Linked DNA regions of Homo sapiens. The protein of the gene in region 2 interacts with the protein of the main gene of each other region in a biochemical or structural test. Each region holds a gene or a part of one and is shown on either strand. Other genes may lie near its edges. The genes, in order: UBA1, UBE2A, RNF20 and RAD18.

The links.
Region 1: of the proteins of UBE2A (region 2) and UBA1, one has a biochemical effect on the other in vitro, tested with the Homo sapiens proteins (6 studies listed by BioGRID, with this or other methods).
Region 3: the proteins of UBE2A (region 2) and RNF20 form a complex in vitro, tested with the Homo sapiens proteins (4 studies listed by BioGRID, with this or other methods).
Region 4: the proteins of UBE2A (region 2) and RAD18 form a complex in vitro, tested with the Homo sapiens proteins (12 studies listed by BioGRID, with this or other methods).

What each region holds. Positions count from the first base shown.
Region 1 is NC_000023.11:47,189,815-47,196,844, forward strand, and holds the start of UBA1 (ubiquitin-like modifier-activating enzyme 1), read left to right. Parts: upstream 1-4,014; 5' UTR 4,015-4,210; exon of another isoform or gene 4,211-6,618; coding exon of another isoform or gene 6,619-6,655; exon of another isoform or gene 6,656-7,030. UniProt on the Homo sapiens protein: Catalyzes the first step in ubiquitin conjugation to mark cellular proteins for degradation through the ubiquitin-proteasome system.
Region 2 is NC_000023.11:119,570,218-119,577,573, reverse strand, and holds the start of UBE2A (ubiquitin-conjugating enzyme E2 A), read right to left. Parts: upstream 3,012-7,356; 5' UTR 2,863-3,011; coding exon 2,819-2,862; intron 2,674-2,818; coding exon 2,593-2,673; intron 2,200-2,592; coding exon 2,174-2,199; intron 1-2,173. UniProt on the Homo sapiens protein: E2 ubiquitin-conjugating enzyme that accepts ubiquitin from the ubiquitin-activating enzyme E1 and transfers it to a E3 ubiquitin-protein ligase. In vitro catalyzes 'Lys-11', as well as 'Lys-48'-linked polyubiquitination.
Region 3 is NC_000009.12:101,529,065-101,536,871, reverse strand, and holds the start of RNF20 (E3 ubiquitin-protein ligase BRE1A), read right to left. Parts: upstream 3,020-7,807; 5' UTR 2,958-3,019; exon of another isoform or gene 2,572-2,957; intron 1,475-2,571; 5' UTR 1,449-1,474; coding exon 1,320-1,448; intron 1-1,319. UniProt on the Homo sapiens protein: Component of the RNF20/40 E3 ubiquitin-protein ligase complex that mediates monoubiquitination of 'Lys-120' of histone H2B (H2BK120ub1).
Region 4 is NC_000003.12:8,960,473-8,967,676, forward strand, and holds the start of RAD18 (E3 ubiquitin-protein ligase RAD18), read right to left. Parts: upstream 3,001-7,204; 5' UTR 2,914-3,000; coding exon 2,863-2,913; intron 1-2,862. UniProt on the Homo sapiens protein: E3 ubiquitin-protein ligase involved in postreplication repair of UV-damaged DNA. Postreplication repair functions in gap-filling of a daughter strand on replication of damaged DNA.

The DNA.
Region 1 (7,030 bases), about 72 Mb from region 2:
TTGTCTATTTTCCTGCCTCCACAGGGCTCACTGTGGGACCACAGATGCACCCCACTATGCCCAGCTAATTCTTTGATTTTTTGTGGAGACCAGGTGGTGGTGGTGGGGTGTGTGTGTGTGTATGTTGGGGCGTGGGGGGGTCTCACTTTGTTGCCCAGGCTGGTCTTGAACTCCTGGGCTCAAGCAATCATCCTGCCTCAGCCTGCCAAAGTGATGGGATTATAGGCGTGAGCCGCCGCGCCCGGCCAAGACTCCATTTATTAAAAGGCTAAAGAATTTTGCCAGGCGCGGCGGCTCGCGCCTATAGTCCCAGCACTTTGGGAGGCCGAGCGGGCGGTATCGCCTGAGCTCAGGAGCTCTAGTCCAGTCTGGCTAACGTGGCGAAATCCCGTCTCCACTATGGTAACATGTAAACATAGAAAAGATAACAGTAAAATTTTTTCTGTGTTATAGGACCGTTGACCAAAATGTTATGCAGCACATGATTGTATATCCATAATTTATATTACTGTATATAGTCACAGATATCTATTATAATACGGGTTTGTATGTGAAACTATAATTTTACTTATTGTTATGTTTATGGTCTGTGTATCTTGCTAGAATGTCAGCTCCATGAGCCCAAGGAAGAATTTCCAGCACCTGGCCCATGTCAAATGAACTTTTTTGGCCACCTGAGTCTCGGTCTCCCCATCTGTAGGATGGGTGTGCCTTTCCATGTGGAGGCACCCACACGTTCCGTTTCCTCTTCCCACCCTACAGAGCACGGCTCCGGCAATTCCACAGCTCAGGCTTACATTTTCCCATATTCTGGACGCTGGTGCCCACCACGTGCACCAGGCACTGGCCAGACAGAACTACCACCCCCAGCATGCCGCGCGCATTTGGGCCGTACCACAACCTGTAGGGTCATCTGGGTCTGAAACGGGCACCAGCGACGCGGGAGCAGGGACTGACGCCCCTCTAGCAAAGCATCTGTGGTACATCCCAGACCCGGGGCTCTCCAAGGCCCCGCGCTTCCGAGCTCCGCGCAAACTCTGGCTTCTCTTGTACGACAGAGGTGGTTTGCTCTTCCGTTGCCCCGTGGCTTCAGCTCATCTTTGGCAGGAAGGCGAGGCTTCCGCCCGGCACAGGGGGTGAGCTGGAGCACCGTGCCCCCAAGCCTCTGGACAGCATTTGGAGGAGGGTGCTTCCCTAATCCCAACTTCGGGGAAACCCCTCATGGGCGTATTTGGAGCCTCCGGGCCCGGGGTGATATTTAGGGGGCGTCTGCTTTTGAGACCCTTAAGGGGTGCCGTTTGGGGACTTCGGGGTGGGATTTGGGAGTCTGTTTCGGGGAGCACCCCTCGGAGGCAGGGTTTGGGGGGCTTTGGGGAGATTCTTAGGGTCCGTGTATGGGCACCCTTGTCCGTGGAGCAGGATTTGGGTTATTCTTCAAGGGGAGAAGCAAAGCTTGAGGTTACTAAAGTCAAGGCGGGACTGGGGGAGGGCTTGTTTCAGGACGGGGTCCTGGTGACAGAACAATCGGGACCGACGTGGCATTGTGGAGGTGTCAGGCCTTTGTGACCTCTGGTTTTGTGATGAGGTCCTCCCCGCGCCTGGAGGCTCAGGACTGCGAGACTGGACACGTCGGGGGCCCAGATGTTTCTAGGGAGAGGAGCCTCCCAGCTCAGGCTAGGGAAGGGACACCGGAGCCCAGCTCTTCCTGAGCTGACGAGGCGCCACCCGGCCTTTATTCATTATTCATAATAAGGTGGGGCTGTGGTAGGCGGCAGTTTTTTTGCCTCTTTCGCACCTGGTCCGCTGAAGGTTCTCGGCTTGTGAATTATTCACGAGGGGCGGATCAGCGTGCCGAAGGGACGTGCTGAAGGGGCGTTCTGAAGTCTGCCGCGCAAACGAGTTCATTGATGATTCGCAAAAGTTAAGTAGCACCCTGAGTTTTCAGTGGCTTTTCTAGGGGTTCCGTGCTTAATTCATGAGGAGCGTGGCTTTTGCAGCTTTGTCTGCGTGATCCGCGGTTAGCTTTCCCTTGCAGGTACCAGAGTTAAAACCTGGCGTCTAGCAAAGGGATGAGGCCTCCTACATTGTTCATTTCTTATGGCCTGGTAATCCCAGATAATCAGCCGGCTCTGGATTCAAATCCCATCGATCCTTTCCAGTTGTGTGATCTTTGGCAAATCGTTTTGTAAGCCTGAATAATGGGTATGAGGATAACGATAAGATTAGCTTACACTCGTTTAGCTACTTAGCGCATTTAATCTTCACGACAATCCTAGGAGGTAGGTCATTATTACCCCCACTTTATAGATAAGGAAACTGGGACACAGGAAGGCTAAGTAATTTGCCTAAGGTCACACAATCAGTGAGTGGCTGGGCCGGGATTCAAATTGGGGTCTAGTTCCGCAATCTGTAGTCTTAACCAGATGCCATAATGTCTCCCCTCCCCATTCCCCTGCGCCGCCATTTGATAGTACTACTACTACTAATATAACACTTAGCATGTGCCAGGCACTGGTCTAAGCCCTTTCTACTTATTTCTTCATTTAAACTCCATCGCAAGGTAAGTTGCTGTTATTCCTATTTTATGGATGGGGAAGCAGTGGCCCAAGTTGGGGGTTTCTCTAGTGGCTGAGTATTCATAACTAATTTTATATTAATGTAAATATATATTTACATATCTTAACATATTACTTTTATATTAATATATAATATTTTAAAAATTTAACAGTGCCTTGTGCCAGCAATGTTCTAAGGCTCATCCCATAATTTATATTCTCTGATTTTCTTTTGTTTGAGACGGAGTTTCTCTCTTGTCGCCCAAGCTGGAGTGCAATGGCGCGATCTCGGCTGACTGCAACCTCTGCTTCCCGAGTTCAAGCGATTCTCCTGCCTCAGCCTCCCCAGTAGCTGGGATTACAGGCGCCCGCCAACATGCCCAGCTAATTTTTGTATTTTTAGTAGAGACAGGGTTTCACCATCTTGGCCAGGCTGGTCTCCAATTCCTGACCTCAGGTGATCCACCCGCCTCGGCCTCCTAAAGTGCTGGGATTACAGGCGTCATCTGATTTTCATAATAACACATTACTATCCTCATTTTACAGTTGTGGAAACTGAGGCACCTGCCAAAGACATGTAGTGAGTTTGGGTTTGATTGGACCAAGGCAGCCCTTGTTCCTGAGGCGGGGAGAATGGAGGGAGGCGTGGAGAGGGGAGGTGGGGGCAGGGAGTACACGTCCCCTGGGTTTTCTGGTGGCACTGCAGTGACATCTTTCATTATTCATGAACAGGAAGGCGTGCTCACTTTGCCTTGGCTATAGCATCGTAATCCCTATTTGCTGGGCAGGGCAGTCTTGGGTGTTTCTTCGCCTTATGCATAATTCATAAATTGGGTGGAACCTTTCTTGACCTCTCTGAGTTTCCAGGTTGAGCTACTGCAGCAGCATAATTCATTATTCAGGACCTGGGAGAGTGTGTTTTCCCTGCAGCAGCCCCATTTCCCTGCTTACAGTGTATTAGATGCAGCAATAGGCGGGCGTGCCCCTTTTATTCCAACCCACTGGGCCTCATGCATTATTCATGAGTAAGTTGTGGCCTGGGTCTCCTTGGCTTCCGGGCCCCTGCAAGATCATCATTATTCATGAATGGGGGTGTGTGGCTTCCATGTTTTAACATCTGCTTTCTGGTTGCTGGTTGTTAGTCTACCAACCACTCAACTTCATGCATAACTTATAATCAGGAAGCATGGCCTTAACGGTTTTTCTTCGCTTCCTTGACAGCCTGGCTGCAACAATTCATTCATTAGTCGCATTCCATGAGGCGTGGCCTCTGTTTTACCTGTTTTCGTTGTTACTGCCACAATGTCCACCAGGTGGTGCTGTTCCACTTCTAACCGAATGAATCGCAACCGAGTAGGGAACTTTATGCATGATTCATAAGTAGGCGCGGCCCGCTTGCATCCGGGTTTCTGGGGGTGGGGCCCAAGGTTTTGTTCCGGCCCCAGGCTCAGCGTCCGCCATCTTGTGTCGGCGGCTCGGCTGTAAGGAGGTGGCAGGGACAACCACAACCACAACGGCCGGGGGAGGAGAAGGCGGCAGCGGCGATTCTAGGCGGCCCAGGCGGCGGGGAGGAGGAGAAGGAGGAGGGTGGCGGCCGGGCTTGGCTTCGGCTCCTTGAGGAGTTGGCGGCGGCGCGACCCGGGGAACCGGCATTGGTAAAAAAACGTCCTTTCACTGCGCCTCGCCCTGGGCAGGGGTTTCGGGGAGGCACTGGAGGGCCCTGAGCCACGCTGCTGTCGGGGCGGGCCGCGGTGACTCGGGAGCCAGGAATCAGCGGAGTAGGGAGGGGGAGCGGATCCTGGGGCGGGGCCGACTTTCCCCGGCCAGGACCACTCCGGCTCCCTCTGGTTGCAAAATCTGACCTTGGAGTCGGACCCCCAGGATGTGCTTTTAGAGACTCACGCCCAACATCTCTAGTCTGGGACCTGACTCCGTCCCGAACCTTGTATCTCAGATCAGAACTCTTCCCCAGTCTCCAATAGAGATTTACGTGGATCAGCATTGCTGATCAGAGCTCCTCACCATTGAATGCCGTTAAAGACCTGCCCCAGAATCTCCTTTGAGACACTTCCTAGCTTCTCAGTATTTGTCCTCAAGGCTTCCAGGACGGGCTAGATCTCGAAGGGGTCCATAGGCCCTTTATCTCTGTAAGAGAGTCCTCTTTAGCATTTTCCTTCAGACCCCCATCCCACACACATGCTAGCCGCGCTCAGAGCTTCCAGGGGTACTAGACCCTGTGAAAGGCCATTTGGGCCTGGCCTTTGTGTCGGGGGCCCCTCTTCGCCACACGTCAGGTCTCCTAACCCCACCCTGGCCCTAGCATCTTCCATCAGAGACTCTGCCCAGTATTTCTACTCAGAGACCCCTCTTACCATCTGCCTTGAGAGACTCTTCAATTCCTAGACTCTGTCCTTTGACACTTTCTCTACTTTTATGGAATTTCTCGCTTTTTATACTTCCAGTATTCAGAGACTACTGAGAGGCCTCAGCATCTTCCCCATCAGGCACCTTGAACCCCCAGAGCCTTCCAGTGCACCAGATACCAGGGAGGAACTGTTTGGATACATAATCCTCCATCAAAGAGCCCCTGCGAGCATCTGCTCTTGCAGATCCCGTTGGCTTCTAGCCCCTTCCATCAGAGACTCGCCTCCCCAACCCCACCCTAGACCCAGCCTCTGCCTTCAAAAACCAACCTGGGTTCTAGCTGCTTTTTTCACAGATCCCTTATCCTCACATCAGGCCTCAGAATCTGCCCTCAGATCGTTTCAAGGTCCCTAACGTCTGCAGTCAGGGGTTTTCAGCTTCTGCTTTCAGCCTCCTTGGACCCCAGGATCATTGTCAGATGTCCCTTCCCCCCACAGGCCTTCTTGTTTTCTTTTTCTTTTTCTTTTTTCCGAGACAGAATTGTTTCACTATGTCGTCCAGGCTGGAGTGCAGTGGCGCCATCTCAGCTCACTGCAACCTCCACCTCCTGGGTTCAAGCGATTCTCCTGCCTCAGCCTCCCGAGTAGCTGGGATTACAGGCATGCACCACCACGCCTGGCTAATTTTTTGTATTTTTAGTAGAGATGGGGTTTCACCATATTGCCCAGGCTGGTCTCGAACTCCTGACCTCAGGTGATCCACCTGCCTCGGCCTCCCAAAGTGCTGGGATTGCAGGCGTGAGCCACCGCGCCTGGCCATGGCCCTCTTGTTTTCTACTGCAGTAGAAAACCCTCTTCTCAGCATCTACCTTCAGCGCCTCCATGGGGTCCTACATAATTGGTCAGAGAAACCCAACCCCATTTGGGGACCTAGCCAGTGTTTGCTTATTAACCTTTTTAAGGCCTGCACTATCTGGGCCCAGCTTCCCGTTTCCACACCCTCAGAGCAGCTGTGATACCTAGCATGTCCTGTCAGAGATTGACACAGGGCCTTTGTGTTCCATTAGAAACCTCTCCCAGCCCCTCACCATCCACCCTCACAGCCTCCTGGGACTCTGTAGTAGGAATGTCAGATACACCTCTCCTCTTGCATGTCCCTATCTATTATTTTTGGTTAAAGATTTCTCTCTGCTACCAGCATCTGTCTCCAGAGTCCTCCAGAGCCTCAACATCCTCCTGATGGAGGCTGCCTCTCCCCCCAGACCCCAACATCTTCCTGCTGCCTCCTCAGACTCTAGAATCCCCCACCCATTCCCTTTGCAGCTTCCATGGGGCCCAGCAACTGTCCTCCTACCTCCTTGCAGCCTTGGGGGCCTCCACTGCAATTTTTCAGCCTTTCTCCAAAAGATCCTTTTCCAGAGATCCGAATTTGAGTCTTTTCCTAATACCCTAGCCTAGTCCTTTCCCTCCCAGGACTTCTAACATCTCCTTTCCCATTTGTCTCAGAGCCTCCTTGCTCTTAGACACCCACTTCCTGATTCTCCTCTCACGTTCCCATGGACTTCTCAGTTAACCCCTCCCAGAAAGCTTGACATGCTCCAGCCCCCCTTCTCTATGCCCTAGCTTCTCCATCCTGCTAACCTGCCTCCTCTCACACCTCCAAGACTCCTCCCTCAAACCCTCTGGTTTGGGAATAGAGAATGCTTACGCTTGAAAATCTTCAGTTTGGAGACTCAGGTATGTTTAGAAACTAAGCCACAGCTCAGCTTTGCCAAACAGTTCACAGTGTGTATGTTATGGTGGGGGCCTGAGCAAATGTTGAGGTAGGAAGGGTGTAGATTGTTTTTCTGCTGGGGGTGGGGGATCTTTAGCTCCTCTGCAGAGTTTCTGTCCCAGACTCCTGCTTGCCTTGAGACAGGGCTGTTCCAAACCTTTGCAGTCAAAATCCACTTGAACAATCATCTGAAACTTCTTAGACTCTTGCTGCCTGCACTGGGGATCCAGAGGTGAAATGTCCAGATATTAAAGTGCTCTCTGGCCCTGGATCATCTCTAATTTATGGAGTGAGGAAATGGCATGTCCCAAACAAACTGACCAATGACAAGGCAAGGA
Region 2 (7,356 bases):
CATCGGTAGCAGACTGTTCAACAGAACAAATCAGCCTGAGTAATTCCTTTCAGTAATGCTAGGATGGAGATACACATCATCAAAAATAGAACCAGTAATGTCAAAGGTGACAGTCCTGGTAGATAATGGACTCTGTAAGTACCTTTTCAATTCATACCACTTAAGAGAAGCACCCTTGAAATATTTAGGTAGCCAATCCCCAGCAAAGTGATGTACTATTAATAAAGCTGTGCCCAGCATAAAACAGAGTAAAACGAGGAAAAAAGAAGCCAATGAAAACAAGGCCTACTAGAGCTAAAGCAAACACAGTTAATCTGTACATTTAAAGCTCAGGTATAAAGAACTAGTGCTCGCCGGGTGCGGTGGCTCAAGCCTGTAGTCCCAGCACTTTGGGAGGCCAAGGCGGGTGGATCCCAAGGTCAGGAGTTTGAGACCAGCCTGGCCAACATGGTGAAACCCCGTCTCTACTAAAGATACAAAAAATTAGCCGGGCGCGGTGTCGCACACCTGTAATCCCAGCTACTCAGGAGGCTGAGGCAGGAGAATCGCTTGAACCTGGGAGGCGGAGGTTGCAGTGAGCCGAGATCACACCATCGCACTCCAGCCTGGGTGACAGGGCGCAACTCCGTCTCAAAAAAACAAAAACAAAAAACAAACAAACAAAAAAACTAGTGCCAATCTGGTAGAAGAAAATTAAGTCTAGCTATAGTTTTTTGCTACAAATCAGTTCAAATGATTAACTGCGCCAAAGTAGTATGCCCTTACAATCACTGTTTCCTGCTGTCATTTCTTTTCTTTGCAGCCCTGAAGAGTAATGATATTTACCCAGGGGGTAAAGGTAAAGAGGAAGCTAAAAATATTCAGGTGACTGTCCACAGTTTCCTGGGGAAATCTAAGTACTTGAGATGAATTACAGACTTAGTTGAAATTGACTTACCTCACAACATTTTGTGGACTGGTAGCATCAAAAAGCAATCCGGCTCAGCAACATAAGTATGTATTAAGTAGTTTGCAGAAATGTTTTTGTTCCCACCTTCAAACTGAAGTGTGTGTGTGTGTGTGTGTGTGTATAAATGCTATGTGACCGAAGGAAATCATTGAGGAAAAAAATAACAGAAAGATCCTTTTCCTTTTTTTTAAAACCTCAAATATTAAAGAATTTCATGAGTTCAAATACTTTAATCATCCTTTAAATGTATTAAACTTTCAAAAAACAACCACACACACACACAACTGAGTGTAGAACTATCAGTGTCATTTTTCCGGTTGTGATAGGGTCTAGTCATTCAAGATGTTACCAAATGGGAGGGTTTGGGTAGAGGACTGGGTTAAGGGTATAAAGGGTGTCTCTATTATTTCTTGCAACTGCATATGAATCTATAATTATCTAAAATCAGAAAGTTTTTAAAAAGCAATTTACACGTGTTTTTAAAAGTTAAACCTAAATCAATTAAAAATTATGTACCTACTGGTACATGTAGTACTTTCAGGTAGGCAGGACACTGATCAAAAGGGTACATTAAGGCTAACTTCAATTGTGAAGCTGCTTTGAAATTACTCATCATAACGTCTTGATGAAAGCACACACTGCAAATTCACTTAAAAATAAGAAAGAATACTGTACTCAAATGAGGCATTTAAGACCATCTTAGAGCAGTGAGGCTGACAGGCATTCAATGTCAGATTGTAGAAACCAGACAGTTGTACGCAAGGGATTCTCGCATCCACTCAACATCCAACACACATCTACCAAGCACCTGCTGAACACAACTCCTGCCCTTGGGGTAGAATTCTGAACCAGATGGTCTCTGGGGTCTCTGCTGCCTATCAGCAACTGGTTGGGTTTATACTAATTCAGTGATGGAGGGCTGAATTTAGCAGAATTACAGCCCAAGCCTCAAAAATCCTTAATACCAGTGCTATGATTGCTCCTTTTAAAAAGTGACTGCCTTACACAGATTTTTTTTTTAAGAAAGCAAGAAGAAAGGTGCAGTTCTAGTCAAGCATACAATATCCAGAACCACCAGCCACACACTGCATTCCACTCAAGCCTTTAGCAGACAGAGGCTAGGCAGAGGCAGGTTCCTAAGCAGGAGACACTTCCAGGATGACTGGGAACCCTTTCCCCAGATGACCAGGCTCCTGAAAAGTGGGTAAAGAAACTCTCTCTTACCATCCTCAAACGGGGTCCCTTCAGGCCTGCAACACAGAGAAAAATGGTCAGTTCCCACTTAAGGGGCCCCCTTCTCCCTGCTTCATCTGAGATGGCTATCCCGAGCTCTGCCATCTCCAGCACCGCTACCGGGGTCGGAAGCCACTACAAATGGATGTCCCGGGCTCAGAGACACAGGGCAAGCCGCCGCGCCTAACCGCCACCACTCCCCGCCCCGCCCCCCTAGAACCCCAAGCGGTTCCCCCTGGCAGCGGGAACTGAGCTAATCGAGGCACAGGCTCCGGGGAGGCGCCTAGGCCCAGCCAGACCCAAACATTTTCCCCTACCCGCTCGGCCTCCGCGGGGGGCCCGCCCCGGAGCGCAGACCGAAGCTGCTCGCGTCCCCAGTTTTCTCGCCACCGCCACGAACGCAGACTCACCCGAAAATGACCGCGTTCCACACCATTATGTTGTTCTCGGACGGAGCCCCGCTGACTCCGGCTGGAGGATCCTCCTGCAACCTTCGGGAAGACAGACAGGGGTCCCCCTAGGCCGGCACTGGCGCCCGCTCCCGGCCGCTCCCCAGCCCTCCCCGCCCGGCGCGCCTCGGGACCCGCCCTGTGCCCCAGCTCGCAACCCCCGGCCTCGGCCGTCCCCTCGGTTTACCTCTTGAAGTCCCGCATGAGGCGCCGCCGAGCCGGGGTGGACATGTCGCGAGCGGGGTCAGGGGTGGGGCATACACTGGGGTCTCGGGTTCCCGCGGCGGGCGAGGAGGCCGAAGAGGCTGGAGAAGCAGGAGAAGGGGAGGCGGAAGCACCCAGAGGAACCGCGCTGCCTCTCCGAAGTCGAGGGTCGGTCTGGCGCCGGCTAAGCACCACCCCAGTGTAGACGGGGGCTGAACCAACCTGAGAGCAGAGAGAGGGGGGTGGAACGTCGAGCGCCGGACAGGCCGTACCAAGACGGGGCGGGGGGTGCGCGAGGAAAGTTGCTTATGTCATTAAAGCCCCACGGGAGGCCCGGGGCGGGGCCGCGAGCGCAGAGGCGTAGGGTACGCCGGAGCCCCGGGCGCTGGAGGAGCTCGTGGTGGAACGGGGTCCATCCCCACCTGCTAATTCTAAGGCAAACCCTGGGAAGTTTTCGGCTTTTTTTCTTTTTCTCTTTTTTTCTTTTTCTATTCGTTTTTGTTTGTTTTGTGACCAGATCATTCATGAAAGCGCGCACTATGCCCGGGGAGGAGAGGGGAGAAGTTTGGAAGTCCCAAACTAGAGGACGAAGGAGTGGGCGGAGGTAAAACCGGTTCTCAAAAAGCGGCAACTCTAGGGTGCACAACCCCTTCGGACACCGGAGACTGGGGTCGGAGGGGTGGGGAGAGGAGTGATTGGTTAAAATCACGGAAAATCAAAAGAATAAATCGGCCTTGACTATGACGGGGGGGCGGGGCGGGGCTGTGGGATTGAATGCAGGATTGGGCGCTCAACGTTTAGGCCAATGATCACCCCAGGGCAGAATGAAATAGTGTTGTATGTCCTGTGGGAGGGAATGGGAGCTTAAGGCAGGCGGAGTAGGGTTTTGTTTTGTTCTGTTTTGTTTTGGGCACTCACAATTTGGCTCTGGAACCACATTTCCCCTTGGTAGTTCAACAAGCCAAGCGGCTATTTATGTTCAGAAGAGTCCAAGATATGAGACTATCCGACTGCAGGGAGTTGCAAGGACAGTGGGTCTGAAGTAAAAGGAACGTGGAAAAGCTGCAGGTTGCAGGAAGAGTCACAGTCCGTGGACCTGCAAAAGCAATAACAGTTTTAAAGGATAATTTTTAAAGGTCAACCCAAAATAACTTAGAAGATAGGCATAATACACATTTAAAAATTATTGAAAATAGGAGAAAGGTAGATTTGGGTTAAGTCATCAAGAGTTTTGAATGCCAAGCTAATGGATTCCTTGGAAGTCCATTGAGCAGGGAAGTGACATCATTAGAGCTGTCCTTATCAGAGATTGGTCTCAAGAGAGCAGGCAGGAGACTCTTGCAGTATCTAGGTGCGAGATACTGAAGCAGGCAGTGACAATAAAGGCGAGGATATGAATGAATGGGGAGGACTTGGCAACAGGCTGAATATGGGGCAAGAGAGAGGAAGGAGTCAACAGTGGCTGAAACTCTAAGCCCCGAGATAACTGGGGTTTTGAAGGTGCCATTAACAGAATTACAGAATAGAGAGAGAGGGACAAGTTTGGAAAAGGAAATTTTGGGTGGGACTTACTGAGTTCATGGGACTGGTGAGACATCCCCGTGAAGATGTCCAGAAGATATCAGATGTGCAGGAATTTGTTTCTAACATGAGAAGCAGGAGGCACTTGACAATGGTAGTGATTCTAGCTGCTGCTTAACAACAGGTACTTTCATGGTCAAGGATTTCTATCTCCCATTAACTCCAACATATCAGTTAAGGCAAGTCTCCCTAATAGCATCACATTATGGCTGTAGTAGGAAGGGGGTACAAAAATTAAAAAAAAAAAACTTTTTTTCCTCTCATCTAAGAACTTGCAGTCTACTAACACACACATACACACATATGAAATCAACAAAAGCAAGATCTACAAAAGCAAGTATATTCGTTTTCATCACTGCTTAACAAATTACAAGTTGTTGGCCAAGCCCAGTTCATTGCAGTTGTAGGACTTTGGTCCCTATTTCCTTACTAGCTGCCACCTGGGAACTACTCTCAGCTCCTAGAGGCCGCCTGCATTCCTTGCCAAGTGGCCTACTCCATCTTCAAAGTCATCAACAGAGAATTTCTCTCCCACCACATCCCTCTCACTCTTTGAATCTTGTTTTCAGGAAGAGCACAGTCTACTTTAAAGGCTTATCAGATTATGTCAGGCCCACCCCATGGATAATTTCCCTATGTTAAAAACATCTAAGTTGGGACCTTTATTATGTCTGCTAAATTTTTTCACTGCAGAACCTAGATTAGTATTTCATTTAATAACTGGGAGAAAGTGTGTGTATATACCAAGGACCAAGAATCTCAGGGGAGGGTAGCATCTTAGAAGTCTGCCTACGACAGCAACAGCAGAACCAGAACGGTTTCAGATTTCCTTTTTTTTTTTTTTTTTTTTTCAGATTTTGGAATTATTTGCATTATAAAAGTTTCAGGTTTTGGAGCATTTCGGATTTTAGATTTTCAGATTTGAGATCCTCAACTTGTAGAAGTGTGTGAAACCACAGATGCTGAGAGATTGCACAGCAGAGGAATCGTCATTCTGGTGGGATCAGGACAAGCTTCCTGAAATGGGTGTATTTCAATTTTGTTTCAACAGAGATGAAAGCGGAGCTTGAGAGAGAAGAACTTAAGCAGTTTATATGGGGGCAATGGCACAGACAAGGGCATGGAGCTAAACCCGTGGGCAGATGAGCTTGGCTAATGGACAGGTTCTTGGCTGGGGAATGATGAGACCTCAGCTAGGAAAAGTGAGGGTGACAGAAGTTGATTAAATGCCCTCAAATGCGAGAATGGGGAATTTAGGCAGCTTTTATAGGTGTTTGAGCATGAGAGAGATGTATTGAAAATATCCTGGCCGGGCGCGGTGTCTCACACCTGTAATCCCAGCACTTTGGGAGGCCAAGGCAGGTGGATCACGAGGTCAGGAGATCAAGACCATCCTGGCTAACATGGTGAAACCCCGTCTCCACTAAAAATACAAAAAATTCTCCGGGCGTGGTGGTGGGCGCCTGTAGTCCCAGCTACTCTGGAGGCTGAGGCAGGAGAATGGCGTGAGCCCGGGAGGTGGAGCTTGCAGTGAGCAGAGATCGCGCCACTGCACTCCAGCCTGGGCGACAGAGCAAGACTCCATCTCAAAAAAAAAAAAGAAAAAAAAGAAAAAAAAGAAAATATCCTTTTGAGGCCAGGCATGGTGGCTCACGCCTATAATCCCAGCACTTGGGAGGCCGAGGCAGGTAGATCACCTGAGGTCAGGAGTTCAAGACTAACCTGGCCAACATGAGGTAACCCCATCTCTACTAAAAATACAAAAAAATTAGCTGGGCGTGGTGGTGAGGACCTGTAGTTCGAGCTACTCGGGAGGCTGAGACAGAAGAATCGCTGGAACCCAGGAGGCGGAGGTTGCAGTGAGCGGAGGTCATGCCACTACACTCCAGCCTGGGCGACACGACCAGACAAAAAAAAAAGAGAAAGAAAAAGAAAATACCCTATTAAGAAGCGGCATGTACCGTACTAAAAAGTATGAAAGGGACTGAGAAGCTCCTGCTACTGGATATACATGTCTGAAATTTATTGAAGGATATAGATGTATGTAAGTTTGTTGTGAGCTTGTCTGTTTTTTGAAACCCCCTTTCTCTTCCTTTCTTGGACTTTCTTCCTTTCAAGAAAACTAAGGGCTGGGCTCAGTGGCTCAAGCCTGCAATCCCAGCACTTGGGGAGGCCAAGTGGATCACCTGAGGTCAGGAGTTTGAGACCAGCCTGACCAACATGGAGAAACCCCGTCTCTACTAAAAATACAAAATTAACCGGGCATGGTGGTGCATGCCTATAATCCCAGCTATTCCAGAGGCTGAAGCAGGAGAATTGCTTGAACCCGGGAGGCGGAGGTTACAGGGAGCTGAGATCGCACCATTGCACTCCAGCCTGGGCAACAAGAGCGAAACTCCGTCTCAGAAAACAAAACACAAACAAACAAACAAAAAAACTCAGGAGCATGACCCAAATGGTTGGAAGCCCCCTGGCACCTGCATGGGAGTAGCATTCTCTGACTAAGGAATGAAACTGCATTGCAGGAACACCGTGCCCCCACATTCCTCAGCAGAAGCAGGGTTGTCATAGCAAGCAGCAATACAGAAGATTGTTTTCCAGCATGATGATTATCAGGCTAGAACATACTAACTTTAGCACAGTTTGGCCAAGCATTCTTTCTACCCTTTTTTCACCTTGACATCTTGAAGAAATACCCTCTTCACAGCCAAGCACCACCCCTACCCAAGAGCAGGGGTCCAGAAAGGATAAGTCTCCTCAATTTAAAGAAAAGTGGGCTGGGCACAGTGGCTCATGCCTGTAATCCCAGCATTTTGGGAGGTGGAGGTGGGAGGATCGCTTGAAGTGAGGAGTTTGAGATCAGTCTGGGCAAAAATGCAAGACTTGTCTCAAAAAAACCAAAAAAATTGTGAAATTTCATTCATGAAGATTTCAACATGA
Region 3 (7,807 bases), on a different chromosome or scaffold from region 2:
GCTTTTCTATAGTCTCCAAACACAAGTCAGAGCATGTTAGTCTCCTACTTAAGACTATCCACTAACTCCTCATTGCCTCTGGATAAAGTCCACACTGGGGTGTGTGCTATGTGCTTCCCATAAGTATGTGCTTATCCCTGTCAACAGCACATACCCCACTCTAAACAGTCTATTCCCTTGTCAGTGCTACCCTACAAACTAAAGTCTAGGGGCTGTCTTCAGTGTAAAGGATAGTGTCTGGCAAATAACAAATACTCAACAAATATTTATATATTGAGTGAATAAATGCCTTTGGAATGCATGATGCAAGGCAGTGCTAAAACAAAAATCACTTCCTGCCAGCAATATTAAGTACCAGAACCTCAGGCAGCCTCAGAAATGACACTTCATCAACAACTCACTATGAATGTTCCTATTATTCTGACTCAAAAAAAAAAATCAGCCTCTCTAAAATAAACCTCAGCCTCAAAATCAAATAAGCAATAGATGTGGTTTTGCAAGCCATACAAATGTAAAGCATTTTACAAAATGTAAAACATTTTAATATCACATCCCCATGTCTGATTTTCAAAAAAGCAAAATCTTGACGTAGATCAAAACCTGTAAACTTCTGATGTCTAACAGATATATAACATTACTATGAGATTTTGGTATATAATACTCATTTTGTCAGCTCCATAAGAGCAAGGATAATATCTATGTTATGCACCATTATATTATCTAGCCCAATATTAGCTATGAATGCCTCCCATTTATTGACTATTTACTATATTAAATGCAAAGTGTTAGCCCTTAACAGGGACTCTTATTTTATATGCATAAAAATCTAATGTAGCAGGTACTCTAATTACATTTTACAGACAAGAAAACAGGCAAAGGAAGGATAACACAAGGTCAGCCAGCTAGGAAGTGGTACAGCTCAGAGTCAACTCCAGGCAATCTGGTCTCAGACTCTCACTCTTCACCATACTCTCAATGATTGCTAAACTGTCTCTTAGAATCTGGTACTGACTTTTTCAGTGAATGAAAAATAAATGTGTATCTTCCCACTGCTAAATACCTATAGTTAATGTTGTATCAGGCACCACCTTCCCAGATTCTCGAAAGAATATAAGTACACCTTGAAAACAAAGAACAACTATCAATCTACCTCTCCTCTAGAACTGACTACCACATCATTTTACCTACTTTCAGCCTGTTTTATTTCCCTCTTCTTTTCAAATAGCTTCCCCATACTCCAGAAAGCTTCCATGAATTTTTAGTTTCAAGTTGCAACTGACAGAAGACAAGCACACTTTCATGGCACTGTTTCCTCATACCGTTGAAGAGACACCTCCTAGCTTAATTGTTTCCACTGTGGTCCCTGAATCTTCAACAGCTGCCTTCTTCTCAGGAGGCATGGAGGTGCCAGGTTCTCCAGCTGCTCTTTTATTTCCAATTCCTGACATTTTGGCAGAAGAAGACAGTCGTTTTCCTGATAGAAAAAAAGGCAGAAACTGACATAATATATGTAAGCAAAGCAACAATAGAGTAAAACAATAGAGTAAAAACTAGCAACTTTTCTGGCCAACCCTTTAACCTGGATCCATTAATTCCACAACCATCTCCATATTTCTCTTTGAGGAAAAAAAAAAAAAATTAAATTGTAGAGTAAAAGTCAAGGCGGGCCGGGCGCGGTGGCTCATGTCTGTAATCCCAGCACTTTGGGAGGCCGAGGCGGGCGGATCAAGAGGTCAGAAGATCGAGACCATCCTGCCTAACACGGTGAAACCCCGTCTCTACTAAAAATACAAAAAATTAGCCAGGCGTGGTGGCGGGCGCCGGTAGTCCCAGCTACTCGGGAGGCTAAGGCAGGAGAATCACTTGAACCCGGGAGGCGGAGCTTGCAGTGAGCCGAGATCGCACCACAGCACTCCAGCCTGGGCAACAGAGCGGGACTCCGTCTCAAAAAAAAAAAAAAAAGAAAGTCAAGGCTAAATTTACATGACTATAAATTTCTAAATAGGATGGTGATAAGAATGGTGATAAGAAATGAGACAATGGGCAAAGGGTGAAGAGACCAAAAATAAAGTTCTGGAATCTCTCTTCCTGTAATGCCAAAATCAGAAAAGGGCAGTTTGATTATGCCAGAAGTTAATACTACAGTGTTGAAAGAATCACAGAGCTGAAAGAGATCTGTGAAATGCCTACTAAAGTCATTAGTACTAGACAAGTCAGTTATCATCTCTAAGCCTCAGTTTCCTAACCCAGGAATAAATAACCACAGTATATACTTCCTATGCTTATTATAAAATAAAATGGATGATATAATTATAGAAAGAATTTGGCACAAAGCCGAACACAAAGTAAGCACTCAGAAACCCCAGCTCTTCTTTAACGTTTGCAGTGTTTTCCCTATTTCCAAACGCTCTCTCCACTGTTTTATGCAACCCTACGTTAGTTAGACCTGGGTGCGAATTTCAGTTCTGCCTGTTAGAGGCCGTGTTGCTTTGAAACAGTGAATTCGCCAAGAGCTTCAGTTTCCTCAACTGCACAATATTAACGAATATATTTTTCGTCTGCCCTGCCTACCTCCCAGGGTGCTCAAAGGAGGCGGAATGGATGCTAAAGCACTTTGGCTACTTCAGGAAACAACGCAGCCATCACCGAGACTAACAAGACTACTCTGCTTCCAATTCAAGCTCCAGGAGAGGACTATCGCTGGCAACAACCTCAGTAGGACCTCGCCTGGAGAGAGAAGACACAGAAGCAGAACAAGGCTGCAATCCAACTCGCTAAAAGCCAAAGACCTCAGCCTCAGCGTGGATAATTGCAGGCCCAGGAGACTGACGGCCCCAAAACTGGAGAGGGTGGAGACTCCTGAGGCCTGGCACAGTCCTGTTGGGCCCTAAGCGTGATCTAACCTAAGTTCTTTGAACTGGCGCCGCGCGGGAACAGAACTCGCAGCAGTTACTCACCAAGGCCCGTGCAGAGATTCCAGCTCTCACCCCTGACCCGCGGCGGAGACAAGGCAGAACTTCCGGGAGGCGGGGCCACGGAGAGGAAAAAGGGAAAGAAAAAAGGAAGTGGCTTCAACCCAGCCCATAGGACTATGAGACCCCGCCGGGCGGAAGTGACGTACGGAGAGGGCACGAGAAGCTTGAGCAAGCGCCGCCTCCCTAGCAACGCTGGGCAAGCGCGGGACCCTCTCCTGGCTACGACCTCTAAGAGTACTCGGGCCTCGCTGATGCCTGACGGAGAGCCCTTGGCTTTTGTTGACTTGTTGACCTTTGCTACTGCGATCTGGTCTTTCTGCGGGGATAAAGTTCCTCATTCTGTTGCTTGTCATTGGGGTTGCCATCACTCGTTCAGACGGCCGATTGGCTGACGGTCCCGTCAATCTCCGGGGACATGACTAGCCTCAGACACCTCAGAAAATTGTTCGTTGGTACCCCTACGTGCTGAAATGAAGAGTTCTGGAGAGAATCTGAGGGATTTGAGGAATTTCAGATGTTGGGGATTTTTTCCCCCGCACAGGGAGCGGTATTCTGCCCTGTCTACACATTAGAATCACTTGGCCTGGACAAAAGCTTTTTTAAAAAAGCGTTCCCCTCATCTCCTCCCCCCAAACCCCGCATTTCCATCCACTAGATTCTAATGCGTAAGCAGGAGTGACAACTACTGCCCTTGTGCTTTTTTGGGAACAAGAAATTGTCCAGGGAAAAGATAAACGCCAATCAGTCTCTGATCTCAGTACTAGTCTATTTTAAGCTAATTAAGCATTGATTTTTTTTTTTAAGTTTATGACAAACTGCTATTTTCCATTCAGTTAAACTAAATGCGTTTTAATGATAGGACGGTAATTAATCTAACCTATTAATGAAAAGCTGTATGTCTCGCAGAACTATGATAAACTACCTAATGACGTCAGCTAAGGGTCTAGAAATGGAAGAATGATCGCTATATCTTTTTTAAAAAATAGAATTTAGGCATCTTGGGAAAAAAAGAAGCTAATCTACACTGGATTTCTGTTAGTGTGAAGACTTTTGTCCCTGTACCTGCTAGGGCTTACCTGTAAATGAAGTAAGATGGTCAACACCAGGGAAACAAGTGTTCCTGGTGCCTGGCAGTGGAACACCTTGACTATCTTGGAAAGAATTAACTGGCCCCAAGTGGACTTCACATTTCATTCCGTGAAGTGGGAGCCTGAGAACATGTGAGTGGGGACACACCTGCCGAAAAGCATTGTATGAGACAATGACACTCATTCTCTCATCTTCTTTGGTTCCTCTACTCTTAGCAAGCCTTTCATTCATAGAACTACTGAATGGCAAGTAATGGTTTTTCTAGCCCAGAAAACTAGAGGTTCACAGACTGCATTTAGCCAACAGTTATGCTTTGTTTATTTTAGACAGTATTGGCTGTCCTGCGTGGTTAAAAACAAGAACAAAAATGAACTTAGTTGCCAACATTTAAAATATGGCTATTTTACATAAAAATCCAAATTATCAGTTTCTCTAAAAAATGTTGATGATCTTGCAACAGAAGGGTTATATTTTTGCATGGTCACATTGCTTAGAGCAAAGTAGTGGCTTCTTCTTTTTTTTTTTTTTTCTTTTTTTCGAGACAGAGTCTTACTCTGTCACCCAGGCTGGAGTGCAGTGGCACAATCTCGGCTCACTGCAAACTCCACCTCACAGGTTCAAGCAATTCCCATGCCTCAGCCTCCCAAGTGGGTGGGATCACAGGCACACGCCACCACACCTGGCTAATTTTTGTATTTTTAGTAGAGATGGGGTTTCGCCATGTTGGCTAGGCCGGTCTCAAACTCCTGACCTCGGACGATCCATCCACCTCAGCCTCCCAAAGTGCTGAGATTACAGGCCTGAGCCACAGCTACTGGCAATGAGCCACCACGCTTGGCGTGGCTCTCTTTTATTAATAGATCATGTTATTCTTGTTTACCATAATCCCCACTAATCTTTACTGGTTCCTTAGCACTAGTATAGTTTAATTTGAGTATCATCACTTGTGTGTTACATTGTGATAAATCAATTGCTGGTACTACGTAAGTGTCTGGTGGACATTATTGGTGATCTACCCAACAGCTATTCCCCTTCCCTCACCTTAGCAGAACCAGGATTTTTTTCATGTATCCATATAGCACTTTGATTCCATTAAGTCTTAGGGAAAACTGATTTCACCCCAATCTCCAAGGATTGTCTTAAATACTAAGTTCCATTTCCCAAGCCAAAGTCCTAGTCAGCAATTGACACTTTAATCAGGGTGAATTTCTTTGAATACTAGAATTGAAGCAGATTTTTATCTTCCAGATTTTCTGTGTGAGGCTGAAACTGTTGGAGGCTTCCTGAGATCATTCTTGAGAATGGAGCGACCACATAGGGGTGAGCAGAACCAAGAGAATCTCAGGGAAATGGAGCCAATCAACTGAGTTAGGTCACCCCTAACTTCAACCCACACTTGAGTGTTAGAGAAGATTCTACAAAGAGAGCAGACTTTTCTAGTACCTTTCAATTCTCACCATGTAGGTAACCATATTCTCTAGCAACTGGGATATATGTCTTTCTCAAAAGTTCCAGTTATCTAACACCTTCACAGGTGTCACAGCTCTCCAGAAAATAAAATCAACTCTGTGTGTGTGTGTGTGTGTGTGTGTGTGTGTGTGTGTGTGTGTGTAGAAAGAGATTTGAGAAAGAGAGAGAGGGACATTATAAGGAATTGGTTCACAGGATTGTGGTGGCTGGATAAACCAAAATCTACAAGGCAGGTTTGCAACCTGGAGCCCCAGGAAAGATTTGCAGTTTAAGTCTAAAGGCAGTCTGCTGGCAGAATTCATTCTTGCTCAGGGGAGGTTAGTCTTTGTTCTATTAAGGCTCTCAACTGATTGGATGAGGCCTACCTACATTTTGGAGGGTAATCTGCTTTAGTCTACCAATTTAAATATTAATCTCATCCAAAAAAACAAACAAACAAACAAACAAACAAAAACACCTTCACAGAATCATCCAGAATAATGTTTCACCAACTATTTGGGCACAGTGGCCCAGCGAAATTGACACATAAAATTAACCATCATAGTAGGTAACCATATTCTGCAGCTACTGGTGAGATCTGTCTTTTCTGAGCACCTCAGTCAGCCATCTGACATCTTCAAAGTAGCCTGTCTCACTCTAGCGAATTGGGAAAATAGAATAGATGAAGAGGAGGATGGCAGAGATCTCTCTCATTGAATGCATTCCCCATTCATTTCTGACCAGCCACCTTCTGTTCACCATCTTAATCAAGAGAAAAAGGAATATCCCTGGAAAAATAAGTTTTTCCCTCACTTATAAATGGGAAAACAGCATTAGCAATGATAAAAAGAATACTTAATATTTTATTTCACTTTTAAAGTCTCATTGCTTGTATCAAAAACATAATTTAAGCAAATAGTAATCTTTTTTAAAAGGAGAAAACAGACTCAGATTTTAAGTGATTTTTTTTTTCAAATGATGACTTAATGAGTATTTGTTGAAGGACCCAAGTCATTCGACCTCCAGCCGGTCTTCATTAACTACCCAATTCTGCCACAAGGTGGCATAAGGCGACACGCCTCTTTACCCAGTTCCCTTTCTAAAGCTTTGGTTGCACAGTACTGCGCATCAGTCATGTCCTGTCTTCACCCTAACTCTTAGAAACTTGGACAACTACTGAGGGTAGGCTTAATGCTCTCAAAATGGACAAAATTAAGATATTTTGGATTTTTGTTTATTGTTTTTTTCTACACTGCTTTACAAATGTTTTGTTCTAAGATTGTTATATCTCCAGGCATTCCAATATTCCATGAAATCTGGATTGGATTGTATGCCAGACATAATTCAGGAACTCCCTTATTTTAAACAAGTTGTATTTTACTTAGCATGGTATCACTCGTTAAACAGAAACATTTAGATACCATAGCCCTTGCTCTAGACTTGCTGAATCAGAATTTCCGGGGGAAAGCTCTCTGAAAATGCAAGTTCTTACTTTTGTAATTATGCTTCCTATCTGGGCACATTTAAGGAACACTGCTCTAGGTAATGATGTCCAGGTCCACCTGGGAGTGTCCTACAAAAACGAGCCCCCTCCTCTTGTCCTCACCTTTCCCTTCTCCTACCATTCACCCTCGCCACACCTTTCTCCTTCATTTCCATACCCCTGCCTCCTTCTCCCCAGATCACCTGGCCCACTATACTACATCATACTCAGCCCTCTTACTTTGTAATTTCTGGGGACCAGGGAGGTGGCTTACTCAGGGGAGCTAGAGCCAGGTCTGCCTTTTTTAAAGAGTGAGGACAAGGTGTCCTAACAGTCTATGGAAACGTGAGAGCTAATTGGTAGTCACAAATTGTCAGAGGAGCCCCATTTAGTTTAATGCTCTCTTAAAAAGCTGAGAGAAGGCCGGGCGCGGTGGCTTATGCCTGTAATCCCAGCACTTTGGGAGGCCAAGGCGGGCGGATCACCTGATGTCAGGAGTTCAAGACCAGCCTGGCCAACATGGTGAAACCCTGTCCCTACTAAAAATACAAAATTAGCTGGGCATGGTGGTGGTCGCCTGTAATTCCAGCTACTCGGGAGGCTGAGGCAGGAGAATCACTTGAACCCAGGAGGCAAAGGTTGCAGTGAGCCGAGATCACACCATTGCACTCCAGCCTGGGCAAAAAGAGTGAAACTCCATTTCAAGAAAAAAAAAAAAAAAAGCCGAGAGACACCATGCAGCTATAAAAAAAGAATGACATCATGTCATTTGCAGGGACATGGATGCAGCTGAAGGCCATTATCCTTAGCA
Region 4 (7,204 bases), on a different chromosome or scaffold from region 2:
TTTTAAAAATGTAAACAAAAAAGGACTAATGTCGCTAATGGTCCATATGATGAAATATTATGCAGCCATTAAAAAACATGCTTTCAAAGAATAATTAATGCCCTAGGAAAATAAAAATCAGAAAACAAACCTATGCCAATAATACATAATAATAACAACTCTGTAGTTTAATCTTCATAGCAATCTTATGAAGTCCACAGCATCAGTATCCCAATTTTAAAAATAAAGTCTACAGAGTTCCTAAGTTGGCTGGATCAAACCCAAGAAGTTGACTCCACAGTGATCCCAAATTTTAAATGCACAAAAACCAAAGGAAAATAAGGTAAAATGTTAAACACTGGTTCTCTGGGTGGTAGAATTATGGATGGTTTTATTTTTCTCCTTTATCTTATTCTGAATTTTAATTTTTTTCTACCGTGTACACATATTACATTTACAATATGCCAAAAACAGTAAATTTTTGTTAAAGTAAAACCAGGGAAATAATAAAATGCCAAAATCTTCCATTATTGTGGATGGTAAGCTGTCACAGACACAAAAATCTAAAGGGTTATGTTCAAGATCAATTAAGAGCAGAGGCAGGCCCAGAAGCCAGAACCAGTCTATTATATCACACTTTCTTATCTATGCCATCCTCTTCTGGTGGAGGAATGATTCTGAAAGATCTGCAGAGCACAATTGTGGAAGTTGACACTACATCAGATGAGCCATTTCTGGTTCAAATTTCTTGTCATGTCACTCCAAGACAGTAACATGCATATCACATGCGCCTCAACCAACTAAACAAAAAATGATGCCTGAATAGAGAGTGGTCAGCAGACTCCCCAAAATTTCTTTAGTTTAGAGAGAGAGAAAGTGAAAGGGAGAAGTAGAAAATGGGTGGAAAAACGTAATAATTACAAAAATACTCTTAAGTTTTTGGGGTTACAGATCCCTTTGAAAAATGGATGACAACTATGGACTCTCTGCTCAGAAAAACATACATGCAAAAATTTTACAAATAACTTGAGACTCCAAAGTCTTTCTGTGAATCCTAAGTTAGCAACCATGGATTCTGAGTCAGACTTCTATTCAATAAAAGAAGTAACTTCAGTCAGATCTGCTTCTGGGATCTGATAGTTCTTTGTGCCTGGAAGAGTTCAAGCAAAAATTAGGTGAGAAATTGGCAGATGTGTTATAAAGGAGATTAAAATACTGAAAGGGGCTGGTTTTCTAACCTTAAGATTCCATGATTCCAATGTGAGCAAAAAAATACGGGCTCAATCAACTCTCTGGTTGAACACTCACTGAACGCTCTGTGGTGCCAAACTCTACATTCAGTGCTGTGGTGAGATACCAAAGTCAGAGAAGACATGGAACCCGCCTCTAAAGAACACTGAAATTGTGGGAATATGTAAAGTGTGCTTAAATCTACAAAGCAGGAGCTTTACAGGTTACAGAGCTCTTTTACTTTCCTTATCCAAGTCAAGCTTCATGACAACAAATTAAAAGGGGAAAGAAGCACTTAACACAGTGCTAATAATAATAAAATATATTCATTGAATGCTTACTACATTCCAGATACTTTCAATCAAGCAGCAAATAATATTTGAGCACCCACTTGGTGTCAGGCACTGCAGTAAGCACAGTGAATACACAGCAGAATCTGTGCCCACATACATCAACTAATTTATTTAATCAATCCTATGAACTGTTATTTTTGTCTCTAATTTATAGTTGAAGAAATTCAGGCTCAGAGAGGTTAAGTTACTAACCGAAGGTCATACAGTCAAGAGGCAGACAGGAGATTTCACCCAGGACCACTGGAACTCAAATCTGTGCTCTTCTCCACTGCATCCTGGTGCCAAGCCCACAACTCCAAAACTACAGCTTTCCTGGATCATTTCACAATGTCAGCTTCTCATCATGCAGATATCTCAAGTCCCCAAGCACTCTAGACGTCACTGATGACAGCAGGAAGAACAAGGCCTTCTACTTACTTTAGCCTTCACTTAATTCTAAAGTCAAATTTATGAGTCAGTGGGACAGGTATTATAATCCCCAAGTCTACAAAACTGAGGGAGAAGAAGGCTATCTTAGCCACTGTGAGAAACGGAAATAATCACAGAGCAAGAAGAAACACCAAGCAACTGATCTTTATCCAGCACAGCAAAGTGCATCTGCTCTTGAGCAAATCCAGGGCCCACCACTACTGTAAATGGAAACTGGTATGCCTTGCCAAAACAGAAAGTGGCCACAAAAATAAATGTTATTTAAGTGAAATAATCAGACGCAATGCAAGATCAGCGCTGAGCCTGAGTCCTGATCTCTGTTTAAGAGACATGAGCAATTGTTAGAGAAGAGTGAAGGTGTGTTAGAGAGGAGTTGGGGCAGTATGTCAGAACAAACGAGCACTACGTTTATTGAGAATAATCAGAAGAAATGAAAGAGCCTGTAAAGGAGACTACCTGCTTGGCTACGTGATTACATACATGTTATCTGATAAAGTGTCCACCCAAAATCATGTCCGGTGTCACTGTTTAGTGCTTGACACAAAGTAAGCTTTCAGTAAAGAACAGCTGTCGATGTCATTGTTTGGAATAACTGTTTTTCTCCATGTTATTGTTGGGATTGGATCGCAGAATAGCTGGTGCCATAAGACTGCCAACCTCAGCTCACCAGGCTTGTCCTTGTCACTTATCAGAGGAGTAAACTGAGACCCAGAGCCACGCGGTCGGCTAGTGGCAGGGCAGAGCCGGATACCCGGGCCCAGTGCGACGCTCGCGCCTCATCCTTTCTCCTTAAGGCGAGGACATCCTCCTCAAAGGGAGGGACCTCCCCCCGCAGACACCCGGGAGCTCCCAAACTCCCCGAAGCACTCACCTTCATGACTGCCAGGCCCGGAGGCCACCGAGACTCGGCCAGGGAGTCCATGGTCGCTCCCGAGGATGCTGGGGGTCAGCCACCCACTAGCCTCCGGCGCTCCAACACCACTCGAAATTCCCCGCGCTACCGCATTACGTCAGCAGCCCGCGACGCGCCAGAGGCGGGCGCGGAGCCTGCCGGAAGTTGTAGTAGTATGTGGGCGGGGCGCCGCTTAAGGGCTTGTACTGCGCATGCGCCAGGCTTCTGCCGCACTTACCTTGAAGAAAGTGAATGGTTAAAAAGCGTAGAGCCAGTTGAATATTAAGAAAAGATAGCCAGGAATCAAACCAAATCCAGACCTCACCAGATCTGTCAAGGTCCAGGCTCATGACCCCCCTCCGGGTCGCCCACCCTAATCGCAGTGACTATCCGTCCTTGCTCTGAACAGAAGTTTTTATATCCATTACTTTATGTCTCCCGTATCACAACACTGGGAGGTAGATGTTATCATTGTCAGTTTACACAAGAGAAGCCTACGCCCGAAAAAGTGGATAGAGTTTCGAGTCAGATTCCAAACAGGACCTCTGGGCTTTAAATGGGAGCTGTTGCTTTTATTCATATTAAAATTTTAATGCACGGTTTTTCTTTTTCTTCGGAGAGAAGCACCATTAACTTTGGCATATAGCCTTCTAGATATTTCCTATGCAGATTGACGAAGATTCTTTGCTTGAGCAAACTTTAGTCAGGCTCCTGAACCTTCTCCTAGGCCAATCTGTGTACTTCCTGTAAAAATCCAGTTTTAGCAAAAAACCCTGCTAAATCAAGTTACCAAGAATCCCCACCTTTGATATGTGATCACTCTTGATATCTGATGTGTTCCTCATCCTCCACCATCCCCCAGTTGATGTCTGATCACCCTGGCCTCTTCAGCAAGAATCTACTGTTACCTCTGATGTTTCCTCTTAGTAATTTTTCATGCACTGCTCCCCACCCTGCTTCCTGGCTATAAATTTCCATTTGCCCATGTTGTATTCAGAGTTGAGCCCAGTTTTCACCAATTGCAAGACACAGTTCCAGTGGTCTCTATACCTACTTGAATTGTCCTGATTAAGTCTTCCTTATTGTGCTTTAACAAGTATCATTGAACAATTTTTTTCTTAAACGAGATATAAATATAGATACTTTTTTTCATACATGTTATATTAAATGCATGAGGAATGGAGGTTTACGGTGTCCACCCCCGCCCCCCACTTTGTATCAGCCAATCATAGAACGGCATGCAAATGAACGCAAATGAATGCCAGGCTGAGCTGGAAAATGTCGGATAGTTCTGGATGTGGAGGAAGTGGGGTCTTGGAGAGACAAAGGAAAAGCATTTAAGACCAGGTCCGTGGCCTGAGTGAACCAGTAATTGTTTTTTTCACACTACTAGTTGGACAAGGTAATTAGGTTTAAGGTGACAAATGGCTGGGAAGGTGAGAGAGGAAGAGAGAGGAGATGAGAAAAAAGAGAAAGAATGGGTAAGGAGAAAGGGAGAGAGAGAAAAGACAGGGACAGGAATGTACTTTTTGCATTCAACCATGGAGACAGATTTGGAAGGAGGCAGTACTTGTTAGTCCTGGGGCCAAAATACATTTCCCTATCTATGGAGAGCCTCCAGGACAGGATGCGGTGCCATTCATCTCTGAGTGTCTGCCAATAGCTGGTGGGTGAGGCTGAATGAATGGATGAATCACCGACTAAGCCCACATTCCCATAAATCTTTTCCTCCCAGGCTGAGCATTTCTCTTCCTGCCATCTTCAGCAGCACCAGGGTGATAGATCCCATCAAGCCCACCTCTAGGCCCAGGAAGGAAAGTTCAAGAACAAGCGCACTTTGAGCTCAGGAAAAGGCGTTTGTCTTGGGTGTTTATCTAACCCTGGGAGCCATTCTCCTCTTAACAAGCTGCTGTTTGTATGGACTTTCTCCTTCTGTTAGATCAATAAAGAGATTGTACTTCCTTATTCAGGACTAAAAACAAAATGTTCCATGTAAAATAAAAGCAGGCTAGTGTTTAGTGGAATCTTCTGTGGCACATAGCACACAGCGAGAAGCCAGAATAGGATGGCCAGATAAAATACAAGTTGCCCAGTAAATCTGAATTTCAGATGAACCGCACACAACATTTTAGTGTAAACCTGCCCCAAATATTGCACACAACCTATTAACCAATTATTTGTTGTTTAACCAGAAATTCAAATATTTAACTGGGCATCCTGTATTTTTATTTGCCAAATCTGACAACCCTAATTAGAGAAGCATTCTCCCAACTGAGTGTGGGGCCTGCCCTGGATTAACCTGGGGATGTCCTGTGGCCCCTGAGCTCCTTTCCAGGTTCTCTTCATCCTGTTCCTCTCTGCCCAGCACTCTCTCTTCCTCTAGGCCCCATCTTCCTCATTCTAGTTATGGGAGAGGGGATATTAAAGGAGCTCCCTCCCTCCCTTTCCTTCCTTCCTTTCTTCCTCCCTTCCTTCGTTCCTTCTTTCCTTCCTTCCTTCCTTATTTTTTTTCTTCCTTCCTCCCTGCCTCCATCTCTCCCTTCCTCCATTCATTTTAACAAATGTTTATTGAGCCACTCTCCACTTGTACCAGGTGCTAGAATACAGAGGTGAGTAAGACAGATATGGCCTCTGTTCTCCAGGAGCTGGCAGCCTGGGGGTGAGCATGGAGCCAGGATAAAAAAAAAGAGAGTTTGTAAAAAAATGAGTAAGATAATTGCATAAAACAGTAACTGATGTAAAAACAATAAAAAAGGGTGATAAAATGGACAGAGGAGGGGACACTGTAAATTGTATGATCTGGGAGGCTCCCTCTGAGGAAGTGATATATGGGCAGAGACCCAACTGATAGAGAGAGGCAGCCATGCAAAGACCCAAAGACCCCAGAAGTGGAGAGTTCCATGCCTTAGTAAAAAGTTCAGATTTTAATCCATGTTAACTTGGGTAAGTTGTTGACCTCTCTGTGCCTCAATTTTCTCATCTGCAAAATGGGGATAATATTAGTATTTGCCTTGTAGGGATAATTAAAGGAGTTATTCTAGGTTTAATGCCTAGAAGGGTGCCTGGCAACTACTAAGCCCTGTGTGAGTGTCAGCTGTCATTAATATTATGTTGCTATAAGCACAGGGGGGAAGTCCTTAGAGGCTTTAGGCAGGGGTGTAATTTACATTTTCCAAAGGTCATTCTAGCTGCTGGGTGAAGAAGGGATCAAAGTGGAAAGTGTACAGTAGAAGAAGGTGACAGGGACTGAACCTTGGTGGCACAGTCCGGGTGAGGTAAAAGTGCTGTGGACCTCACACTTACTGTGGACCCCAGTTCTAGGAAGCAGGCCCTGCTGTGTCCTTGTGACCAGGCCCCTATCTTGACTCCTCCCAGACATGGACCCTGCCTTATTCTCTCCCTCCCAGCCCTGGGACAGCTAGGTCTTGTTTACACTTACAGACTGTGCCCATTACCCCGTCCACCTGCCTGTCAGACCACCATCACCTCTGGGAGCTTCTCACTGAGGCCAGCTACCTGTCTGTCACCAAAGCCTCTTCTTAGGAGGAGTCCCAACCCCTCCTATTGATCCTTCAAACAAGTGTTTGCTGAGCACCTACTATATGCCCAAGCAGAGGTGACAAGTACACTAGACAGAGGAATGCCCAGTCCAAGTCAAGGTCTGCAGATGGGAAGAGCTTTGAGATCAGACAGGAAGAACTTTTAAGGGAGGGAACTGTATTAGGACTTTTTGGTTCAAAGTGCTGAATTAGAAAGCTAACTCAAAATGGCCTAAGCAAGAAAGGCAGTGTGTTAGCTCATGTAACTGAAAAGACCTGAGGTAGGTATTCAGGTATGGCTTGATCCAGGTGGTCTCTCTTCTTCCCTCTCAATTACTCTTTCTTCTTTTTTTTTTTTTTTTTTTGAGACGGAGTCTAACTGTGTCGCCCATGCTGGAGTGCAGTGGTGTAATCTCAGCTCACTGCAACCTCTGTCTCCTGGGTTCAAGCGATTATCCTGCTTCAGCCTCCCTACTGGGACAACAGGCGTGTGCCACCATGCCCAACTAATTCTTGTGTATTTTTAGTAGAGACGGGGTTTCACCATATTGGTTAGGCTGGTCTTGAACTCCTGACCTCGTGAACTCCCAGCCTCAGCCTTCCAAAGTGCTGGGATTACAGGCGTGAGCCACCGCGCCTGGCCATAATCACTCTTTCTTAATGCCTTATATCTTCTTCCCTCACTGTCGACTTAACGCTCATGCAGGCTCCCCCCATGAGAGGCAAACATGGCTCCAGAAGCTCCAGGCCTGCATTCTATTAGCACAGCTGCCTCAGCAGAA